Linked DNA regions of Homo sapiens. The protein of the gene in region 2 purifies or fractionates together with the protein of the main gene of each other region. This does not show direct contact. Each region holds a gene or a part of one and is shown on either strand. Other genes may lie near its edges. The genes, in order: CCDC107, SPRY4 and MYOF.

Evidence for each region.
Region 1: the proteins of SPRY4 (region 2) and CCDC107 purify together in Homo sapiens (co-immunoprecipitation; one large-scale study listed by IntAct). This does not show direct contact.
Region 3: the proteins of SPRY4 (region 2) and MYOF purify together in Homo sapiens (affinity purification with mass spectrometry; one large-scale study listed by BioGRID and IntAct). This does not show direct contact.

What each region holds. Positions count from the first base shown.
Region 1 is NC_000009.12:35,656,644-35,660,391, reverse strand, and holds the start of CCDC107 (coiled-coil domain-containing protein 107 isoform A precursor), read right to left. Parts: upstream 2,101-3,748; 5' UTR 2,013-2,100; coding exon 1,907-2,012; intron 1,817-1,906; coding exon 1,665-1,816; intron 1,050-1,664; exon of another isoform or gene 1-1,049.
Region 2 is NC_000005.10:142,314,883-142,318,530, forward strand, and holds part of SPRY4 (protein sprouty homolog 4), read right to left. Parts: exon of another isoform or gene 2,179-3,648; intron 274-2,178; coding exon of another isoform or gene 227-273; coding exon 1-226. UniProt on the Homo sapiens protein: Suppresses the insulin receptor and EGFR-transduced MAPK signaling pathway, but does not inhibit MAPK activation by a constitutively active mutant Ras. Probably impairs the formation of GTP-Ras.
Region 3 is NC_000010.11:93,480,172-93,483,919, forward strand, and holds the start of MYOF (myoferlin), read right to left. Parts: upstream 2,164-3,748; 5' UTR 2,024-2,163; coding exon 1,936-2,023; intron 1-1,935. UniProt on the Homo sapiens protein: Calcium/phospholipid-binding protein that plays a role in the plasmalemma repair mechanism of endothelial cells that permits rapid resealing of membranes disrupted by mechanical stress. Involved in endocytic recycling.

The DNA.
Region 1 (3,748 bases), on a different chromosome or scaffold from region 2:
AAGAAGGAAAGGGCAGTACTGAAGCAACAAGGTTCTGCTCCATCACCTCAGTCTCCAGAGCCAGCCAAGAGAGAGTGCAATTTGAGATGGAGACAGTGATTGGGTTTTTACCTCAGAGAATCACAATCCTAGTCTATCTAGCTCCTCACCCAGCATATGAAGCGACGTCCTATGTCCCACACATGGTCAGTTTGCTGAAACACCTCCAGGAATGAGCAACTCCCTCCGGTTTGAAAAAAGCTCTGGTGGCTGAGTGCTGTGGCTCACACCTGTAATCCCAGCACTTCGGGAAGCCAAGGTGGGTGGATCACCTGAGGTCAGGAGTTTGAGACCAGCCTGGCCAACACGGTGAAACCCTGTCTCTATTAAAAATACAAAAATTAGCCGGGCGTGGTGGCAGGTGCCTGTAATCCCAGTTACTTGAGAGGCTGAGGCAGGAGAATCGCTTGAACCTGGGAGCCAGAGGTTGCAGTGAGCCGAGATTGCGCCGCTGCACTCCAGCCTGGGTGACAGAGCGAGACTCCATCTCGAAAAAAACAAAAACTTTGGTTGTTAGACAGTTCATGCACAAAGCCAAAATTTGTCCTTTATGTATCTTCTTTCCATAGTGCTTACTGGAGCCTTCCAAAATAATGTCTCCTCAAGGTGACAGCCCCTCAGGAATTTGAAGGCAATGGTCACACCCTCACCCACTTTCCTGAGTTTTTTCTGGTTTATTAACGTCAGTCTTTACAGTCAGTGCTCATTGACGGTGGTTTTCTCTGGTTGTTTCCTGAACACGTAGTGCTCTTAAAGCAATGCCCTGAGGAGAATACAATTCTCCAGGGGCATTCTGATTGGCAGGTGAAGCACAGTGCCATGTTCCCAGCACTGATTTGGGAAGTGGCTTGTCACATCCCACAGTGAACTCAGTCAACTGGAATGCCTAACTCTCTTTCATAAGACCTCCTGCTACATTATGTTTCTCCCAGACTGTACTCAGGTCCAAGAACAGAATTTACTAGTCTATCCTTCTCAAAGTTCATCATTAAATTCAGTCATTCATCCTAGCCTGTCACATCTACCTGGGGTCATTATTAGCTATCTCTTCTAGTTTCATATATCTAAACTGGTTCCATCGGTTCTATTTTATAATGCAAGTACGTAATAGGGTCACGGCTAAAGACACAGCCCTGGAAGGTACTGTTTTTCAAAATGTACTGTCAACTTACATTTCAGGGCCTCCTCCCAAGGAGAACATGAGACCACTTCATATCTGGAACTCTAGAAACACTGGCTGCAGCAATCAACCTCCTGTGCCAAGGCTGGCCCCACTCTTGTAGCATGGACACTGCTAGCTGGGTTCAAATCCCAGCTCCAGCAGTTGCCAGCGCTGGGTGACCTCGAGCAAGTGACTACTCCTCACTGGATTGTAGGAGAACTAAATGTGATAGTCATTATTTACAGTTCACCACACGCTCTTCACATCCGTTACCTCCCTGGATCCTCAAAATAACCTCATAATATTGGAAGGCCAACGGACTACTGTCTTTATTTTACAGACAGGGAAGCTGTGTCTTGTTCTTGGTACCCTGGCACCCCCATGGGAGATTCGGGCTCAGGGGATCCCCACGCCCGGCGGTCCCGCACCTGCAGGGGCACCCCTACCCCCGGCCGCCCCGTACCTGCAAACACTTGTACAGCACAAAAGCCGCGACGGCCGCGGTGTACAGCGCCCCCAGAGGCAGCGACCCGGCCCGGGTCCGCTCGCGTTGATCCTTGAGCGGTGGTCGCCGCCGGGGTTCCGTGGCTCCAGAGCCGGGGTGGGCTGCGTTCCCTGCGGAGGGAGGATACAGGCGAGTCAGCCGAGCTGGGGCCTGGGACCCGTGCGCAGTCCCAGCCCTCCTCCAGCAGCCCTAGCTGGTACCTGGGTGTGCCCGGAGGTCGGGATTGGCGCGGTCTCCTAGGACCCCGGACAGCGCAGACACAAGCAGCAGCCCCACCACACCCAAGAGCGAAACTGCGCCCGCCATTGCCGGCCCACGGGTGGAGGGATCGGGCGGGCGGTGCCGAAGCGGTCCGGCATTGGCCGGCCGCCCCAACGCGCACGCGCACGCGAGCAGGCCGGCCGGCTCCGGGGAGGCCACGCCCACTCCCCGTAGGGCGGGGCCAGACCATATTTGCATAAGATAGTGTCATTCTAGCTTTCCTGTATTTGTTCATTTCGTGTCTATTAGCTATTCTGCTAGCCACAATGCCTCTGAAAGCCTATAGTCTTAGAAAGTTATGCCCGAAAACGGTTTTTTTAATCTCACGCCACCAACTTTCTCACCCTAATCATAAAACACAATTTCTTTAGGGCTATAAAATACTACTCTGTGAAGCTGAGGACGTGGTTCGTGCTGAAGGCCTGTATCCTAGGCTACACACTGAGGACTCTGTTCCTCCCCTTTCCGCCTAGGGGAAAGTCCCCGGACCTCGGGCAGAGAGTGCCACGTGCATACGCACGTAGACATTCCCCGCTTCCCACTCCAAAGTCCGCCAAGAAGCGTATCCCGCTGAGCGGCGTGGCGCGGGGGCGTCATCCGTCAGCTCCCTCTAGTTACGCAGGCAGTGCGTGTCCGCGCACCAACCACACGGGGCTCATTCTCAGCGCGGCTGTTTTTTGTTCCCGAGACCACGGCTCACTGCAGCCTCGACCTCCCCGGGCTCACGCGATGCCTCACCTCAGGCTCCCAAGTAGTTGGGACCGCAGGCGCACGCCATCATGCCTGGCTAATTTTTGTATTTTTTGTAGAGACGGATTTTCACCTGTTGCCCAGGCTGGTCTCGAACGCCTGGTGTCAAGCGATCAGTCCACCTCGCCCTCCCAAAGTGCTGGGATTACAGGCGTGACACCGCGCCCGGTCAACGCGGCTGCTTTTCATGCGCGGGCAGCTTTACGCTGTTCTTGGCCTTGCTATGAAGTCCTTGTGCTCATTACTCCAAATATGGAGCATTCCTGAAACAGCCTCCTCTTCTACCTCCCTCTCCCTTTGGCAAACGCCATAGTAGCCACCATTCACTGTGTAGCTGGTACACAACATATGGACTCTGCTTGGGCTAGAATCCTGCCTCCTGTACTCAAGAGCGGTGACCTTGTGAAACTTAGTTCTCTCTCCGTGCCTTCCTTTCCACTCTGAGGAATGAAGATAAGCACTTACTTCAAGAGCTATGATGATTAAATGGGATCACTCAAGTTAGAACCGTGCCTACTTATTAGTGATTTTTTTTTTTTTGGAACGGCGGGTCGCTCTCTTGCCCAGGCTGGTCTTAAACTCCTGGGATCCTCCCGCTTCAGCCTCCCGGGTAGTTGACATTACAGGCACGTGCCACCCCGACGGACTCTAGTGATTTTTTAACTTGAGCAGCTACTACTGTAAGCCAGACAGTTGAAATTACACTGACTCTCCCTGACATGCCGCTGCATTCCCTTTCTGCATACTGGGTTCTACACGACCTTCAGTTCTCAGCTCAAGTGTGTTCCCATCATTCGGAACCCTTAATTCAACTTCTAATTTATTCTTTAGTGCCGCTATTTCACTTTCTTCAATACCACTAGACAAGCAGTCCCCAACCTTTTTGGCATCAGGGACCGGTTTCGTGGAAGACAATTTTTCCATGGACGAAGCGGGGTGGAGGGATGGTTTCCGGATGAAACTGTTCCACTTCAGATCGTCAAGCATTAGATTCTCACGAGGAGCGTGCAACCTAGATCCCTCCCATGCAC
Region 2 (3,648 bases):
GGGCCAGCTCTGGGGCCCCGCCCCGGGTCCGCTTTGGGCCGGTGGTCAGGGCCAGGCTAGGGTTGTCTATGTAGTCATTCTCCACATGGCTGGTCTTCACCTGGTCAATGGGTAGGATGGTGAGTGGGTGCTGGAGCCGGCTGTGGGACATCCGGCTGTCAAGAAGGGGCTGGACCATGACTGAGTTGGGAGTCAAGGGGGCGCTCTGTGGGATCGGGGGCTCCATGGGGCTGGAGGTCCTGGACTGTACGGAGAAACAGGCTTCTAGGGGCCCTGGGGGTGGGGTGGGGAAAAGGAAGAGAGAATGGATTCCAGGCATCAGTATGTGGCCTGCCAATACCTCACCCCCCATCAGGTCCTTGGGAGCCGCCCAATTGACATAGGAACTAAAATCCCTCTGTGGACTTTCCAGTGACTCCCCAAGCTTAAGATGATTAATAATGACAAGAAGTCAGTGGTGGAAATAATACTACTGAGCACTTAAGATGGAGGTACTCTCCTAAGCACCATATGCATTAAGTCATTGACTTCATGATAAGCCTAAAACGTAACTACTATTATCCCCCTTTTCTATTTAGAGAAAAGACATGTTGAAATTAATTTGTCCAAAGTCACACAAAACTATCCAAAACTATCAGTAGCAGGACTCAAACCTGGGCAGCCTGAGTTCATTCTCTTAGTCACTGTGAAACATGCTCCTTATTTAAGACACATAGCTCAGTGGATGTAAACACAGGCTCTGGAACAACACTCAAATTTGACTCTCACTTTGGTCTAGCAATATTGCTATGAATGAGTTCTTTCATCTCTATGCCTTAGATTTTGGTTTTGTCATCTGTAAAATGGGCTCTTGCAAGGATTAAATGAGAAAATACTATCTATTACCTAGCATATTACCTGGCACGCAGCAACAATTTATCGCTACCCCAGGGAATAAGTTTAGATCTCCTGAGCACTTACAAGCACTGCCTGCCAAGCACTGTGCCAGGCACTGGGGACAATGTGGTGAACTCAACAGACAGCTCTGGGTGCTCCCATGGAGTTTATCAGCTGGATAAACAAGCCCTTTATTTCAGATATTCACAAGAGAAGGGCTGTATCTGATGCCTGCACATCCAGGATATTAACTTATTACTACCACTTCTTAAGAGCAGCAACCTGCAGTGGCTAATAATCCCTGGGTATGTGAGCTTCTGACAACTTGGATGGGAAATCCTCTCGAGGGGCACTCACATCACCCATTTCCAAGTGCTGAGCTGAACATTCAGCCTAAATGCTATTTACTAGAGTAGCTAAGCCAACCCTGGATCAGTTTCTAATTTCACCGAGAGAGTGCAATTTTAAGTTGGAATCCAGCCAGAGATTCAACTGCAGTGCCTGACACGGAACCCCAGGAAGTCACTTAAATCAAAGAGCGGAAACTGCTTGGTTCAAATTTAGAAAGTGCACATTGTTTTCTATTAGAAGTGCCATTTCCTTGCCTGCTGACCTTTACATTTGGAATTCTGCTGGAGATCAATTTAAAGAAATAGCAGCAGAAGGCCAAGACCTCTGCTCAAGGGGATACAATTTGGAATCCAAGGGAAAGATTACACTCTGGGAAGATTCCACCCCAATCTTAAGAACCCCAGGGAATGGGGAGGGAGGGTAAAAGAGAAAGATAAGTCTTTAAAACAAAACCAAAAAAAGGCCATTGCATTAATGTATTATGGGGTGGGGTTTTAGTAAATGCTTTTGCATTTACTAAATTTGCATCAAGATGCTAACGATGTTCTAATTAGGAGAGCTGATCCTGCCCCTCTGCTGTTAGGTTTATCTAGAACCTGTCTAAAATAAAAAGCTAGCTCTAGATAAAAGTTTATGAAGGGGATAAAAAGGGGGCTATCCACGGGGCTCCAGTATGTATATCACTTACACTGCTAAATCCAAAAAGCATCCAGTCTTTTCTGCGAGGTTCAATGCTCAGTCAACTGATATTTCCCATTCACGCAGGGCATCAACTATTGGCTTTGCTCCCATGGCCCTGCCTACTTAAAAGGATGCTGGTATTTCTTTACACGCCTTGTTTTTCCTGTCTTGGAGAAAGCCTACCTAGTGGCAGTGCCTGCCCCCATGTTCTCTTCGGATGAAACCATAGCATCACCTTTGAATTGGCGATTTCCTTGTGGCAGAGTTTACCTTAAGTGTCTGGCAGGTCTGCCACCAAAGAGTAGCCACTTGCCAAAGCAGCCTCCCCTGGAGATCCTGTGGTCAGGGCTGGAGAGAGGGAATGCAAGTAAGCATCTATGGAGAGGAGTTTTTCCAAGGATCAGGCTGATGACAACGTAGGAATTCCAGGGAATGCTACCTCAGCCTGCCCACTTATTCTCAATAGGTGTTCCAAAGCCTTGCTTCTAGAATAAATGAGTTTGGGGCAAGAGGCCAGGGTTAGGAGCCCAAGGTCCAGCACTGAGGACGCTGCCTGGAGGAAAGGGTGTGGCTTGGCCTAAGAATTAAAAATGCCACGGATAAGATTCTCCAGCACCAGCCAGAACCCTCACCCCCGGACAATGATAACATGAGTCCCTTGTTCCAGAAACCGATGTCAGGAATATTCAGGGTCCTGCCAACACAATGTAGGCAGCAGTTTGAAGCTTCTATTGCCCCATATAGTTGGGTTTTGTCTCTCAGGACCAGGATTGGGTCTGGTCATGCTGTGGAAGAAAGTAAAAGACTCCCTTTCCTTAAGCAGATTCACTTTTTTTTTTTTTTTTCATTTGTGAGGTTCTTTAAAAACAGCCCATGTCCTACAGATAAAGCAAAAGAAATGGGCAATGCTCAGAAATTTTAATAGGCCTTGGAATCAGAAAGCAGATTCCCCAATTCATGGAAAAGTCCCACCAGGAAGCCAGGATGGGAGCAGCCGCTGCAGGCAATGGGGATGTTGGCATTCACAGGCTCCCATAACCCTCCAGAGGCAGCTGTCAACATCTGGGCCTGCAGTTGAGGCCAGACATGGGGATGGGAGCTTGGCCCACGATGACTTGGCTCTCTGGGGACGATGCAGCATCCGATGGCTCCACTGGGCATATTCTAAAATGTATCTTCCCTATTATAACCCCGATGTAGTAGGATTCCTTTCAACCACCAGCTCAGCAAAAACCAAATCAGAGTTCCACTGCTGGCCTCACCCCTCACCAGCAGGGACCCTCCAAGAGCCTCTGCTGAATTTATGTGGCTGACAAAGGAAAACAATTTTCTGAGCTGCCTATTTAAGAACCCCTCAGCACAGCTAAATGATGTCTCAAAAAAAAAAAGAAAGAAAAAAAGAAAAGAAAGAAGGCCTGGCGCAGTGGCTCATGCCTGTAATCTCAGCCTTTTGGGAGGCCAAGGTAGGCAGATCACTTGAGGTCAGGAGTTCAAGACCAGCCTGACCAACAGGATGAAACCCCCATCTCTACTAAAAATACAAAAATTAGCCAGGCATGGTGGCAGGTGCCTGTAATCCCAGTTACTTGGGAGGCTGAGGCAGGAGAGTCACTTGAACCCAGGAGGCGGAGGTTGCTGTGAGCCAATATCGCACCACTGCACTCTAGCCTGAGTGACAGAGCAAGACTGAGTCTCAAGAAAAAAAAAAAGAAAGAAAGAAAAAGAAAAAACAACTCTCAG
Region 3 (3,748 bases), on a different chromosome or scaffold from region 2:
AACCTAACACATGTAAATAAACTCTGACATAACGTGAGTCCATGATATTCACTAGCCAGATTTTCAAACCTCATTGTCCTTTAAGAGCCCAATTTTAAGCTGGGCGTGGTAGTTTACGCCTGTAATCCCAACACTTTGGGAAGCTGAGATGGGAAGAAAGTTTGAGCAAGGGAATTATAACCAGCCTGGGCAACATAGCAAGACCCAGTCTTATTCAAAAAAATTTTTTTAAATTTTTTTTAAATCCAATTTTTGCCCTTTAGATTTTTTTTTTAACCAACCAACAATTTGCCAGCTTTTTTTTTTTTTTTTTTTTTTTTTTGAGACGGAGTCTCACTCTGTTGCCCAGGTTGGAGTGCAGTAGCATGATCTCGGCTCACTGCAACCTCCTCCTCCTGGGTTGAAGCAATCCTCCTGCCTCAGCCTCCCGAGTAGCTGGGATTATAGGCATGTGCCACCATGCCCGGCTAATTTTTGTATTTTTAGTAGAGATGGGGTTTTGCCATGTTGGCCTGGCTGGTCTCGAACTCCTGCCCTCATGTGATCCACCCACCTCAGCCTCCCAAAGTTCTGGGATTACAGGCAGAAGTCACCACACCCAGCCAGCCAGCTTTGAGTTTCATTTCTTTCATTTTCTTGCTCATCCTCAGAGAGAGAGGTTTAAGAAGAGAAATAAAGGGGAAAAACGGGAAACAGAAAGGCGAAAGGTATAGATGCCTCAGGAACTGACAGGGAGTAGCAGTCAGGCTCCTGGAAGAAACGAGAAATGTAGCAAGGCATGGTCAGGAAACACATGTCTATCCATGCTCCCACTCTCTCTGCCTTTCCCTCTCTTTCCCATCCCTCTTGCCAAGAAGTGAGTTGGCAGTCTTACCAATGACAAACAAAATAGATAAAGCCTCCACACTGAGATTTAGAAACCCCACTTTAGCCAAAACTAAGTCACTTACATCAAATTGTACCATGACACCAAGCATTCCTGTCCCCTCCCCTGCAATGGCAATCAAGTGTCATAGAAAAATAGCCTTTTAAAATTACCATGAGCCTTTTATTTTTATTTATTTTTACACCCAGGCTGGAGTGCAGTGGCGTGATCACGGCTCACTGTAGCCTCAAACTCCTGGGCTCAAGCAATCCTCCTGCCTTGGCCTCCCAAAGTTGGCTCAGGGTTGAGGAGCCACTGTGCTCAGCCAACCATGAGGTTTTTAGAGATGATCTTGTCTAAACCCTTCTCGCCTGTTTTGCAGAAAAGAAAATTGAGATCCCAGAGAAATGAAGTAACTTGCCCAAGGTCATTCAGCAGGCAAGATAGAACTAGATCCCCAAATTGCAAACTAGCTGTCCAGAGTTCTTTCCTCAATGAGCAATTTAAAAGCTACAGAATGTACAAAAAAAGCTCCCCAACAGTTTAGATATAAAAACAATTACAAAGGCACAAAAGGGCAGGAAAACTCAATAAAACTATGAACTTCACCCATCCCACCTCCCAGAAACCCAGTGACAATCAAAGCAGCGTCAGGCTGGTTCAAGGAGTAATGGTGTCTCCAACAATTTAATTGCTCTTCTTCCTCCTTTACCCATTTCTCACAGGCAGAGAAAAAATGCATCTAAGACTACTGAAACTTACTTTGAACCAATACAGATGTTTGTTGATACCTGAAATTTAGTGATTCGCAAATACGTTTTCTGCCAAGAGCTTACAGAAATCACACTCTTAGAGCTAAAACATCAGGTCATTCCATGAGTCTCAAGCCCTGGAGAAAATTAAATGCCTTCCCCAGAAACGGGTCCTCTCCCCTGTCCTGCGCAGGTAACAAACGCTGCTGGAGAGACTTGGCTTCATCAGCTGTCTAAATGCAGACTTTTCAAGAAGGTGACTCAAGAAACTAACATTCCAAAACAGGACTTCAGAAAAAGAAGAAAACTTTTTCTTACCCTTAAAAATGACAGAAACAATAGGATCCGGCTTGCCAAATTTCGTTTTAGGGATATTGCTGGCAGATTCCACAATCACTCGCAGCATGGTTCTTAGCTGGTAGAAAGCAAGTTTCAGCAAACGAAGTGGAGACTAGGGCGCTGGAGCTCCGGGTCGCACCGCCCTGGGAGAGAAGTTCTCTCCCAGTGAAGGGAGGATTTCTCCCAGGGCAAGGAAGGGGAAAAGGCAAAATGGGTGGACCTCTGGCGGATTTTACTGAAGGCAACGTGTAAACTGATACCGAACTCCCCGCGTCTACGCAGTGCCGCAGGCACAGACTTATGAATTCGGGAAATGTGGAAGTGAAAAGGACAAACCCTAAACTAAAAATAATTCCGTGCGACAAATGAAACCAACATGAATTTGGAGCTAAGAAATACGGGTAGGTCAGGAAACCACTAAAATGTTGCTGCCTTTTAGCAATGGTTCGTGAAACTGAATTAATTGATTTTTCCGTCACTGCTTTCATTCTTTTCTGAGTTTCAAGGAGTTTTAAAACTTTAGTCATTATTTGCTTTTGACTTTTCGCTGTTACTTCTCACGCCATTGAACACACCCACTCAGTAACCCTATGTTCAGCTTTTTTAAAGCAGCTAAAGGGTGCCTCTTACTGGACGGCAAACGAATGACAGCGTTTATTTCAAGTAAACGCGATCCAGGCATGGGATATATAAATAATTACATATATGTATAAATAATTATATATATATATATATATATATATATATATATATATATATATATATATATATATATATAAAGGACTGAACATAGAATTTCTTCAAAACCCCTTCAGAGGTGAGAGCTGGGCGCCTAAGTTTTCCCGGCTCTTCAAATGCTGCCAATTGCCTTCAGTGAAAATGGAGAAGTGACTCCCCACTGTTTCTGGACCTACAGCTGCCCATGGTGTCTTTCTGTCCCAGAGGGTGCATGAAGACAGTGCAGCTTGGCTGAGATCACAAGAGGCGGCCTGGGGTTAGTCAGCCAGATCTGAGTGTGAGACTCTGCCTCACCACCCTGAGCTACGTCATCTTAGCAAGTTTCTTTTCTTTTCTTTTCTTTTCTTTTTTTTTTTTGACGGAGTCTCGCTCTGTCACCAGGCTGGAGTGCAGTGTAGCGATCTTGGCTCACTGCAACCTCTGCCTCCCGGGTTCAAGCGATTCTCCTGCCTCAGTCTCCCGAGTAGCTGGGACTACAGGCGTGCGCCACCACACGCAGCTAATTTTTTTTTTTTTTGTATTTTTAGTAGAGACGGGGTTTCACCATGCTGGCAAGGATGGTCTCGATCTCTTGACCTTGTGATCCGCCCGCCTCGGCCTCCGTGGCTTGAGCTTTACTGGCTTGAGCTTTACTGGCTTGAGCCACCGTGCTGGCGAGCAAGTTTCTTAACCCCTCTCTTCCTCAGTTTCCTCATCTATGAACTGGGGATAAAGGCTGTTATAAGATAAAGGTCATAGCATAGGAGCTGGCACAAAGCACACAGTAATTTGCACATGTAAGAAGTTCATGCTTATTTGTGGTCTCACAGCGTTTCTGTTAGTGCAGGCTGACTTTAAATCAGGATCTCGTTATATTTCAGAAGAAAAGGCTAAAACTTGGGATGAAGAAACATTGGGCTTCTTTTTGCTTTAGAACACACATCAAGCAGACCCACCTGTAAATAAACATTTCAAGTACATTGAATAAGCATGACTTAACCTACAAGAATTCTTCTGTCTCCACGAGTTTCTCCAAGGCTTAAAGCAAAGAACCAATTACCCAGTGCTGTGTTCA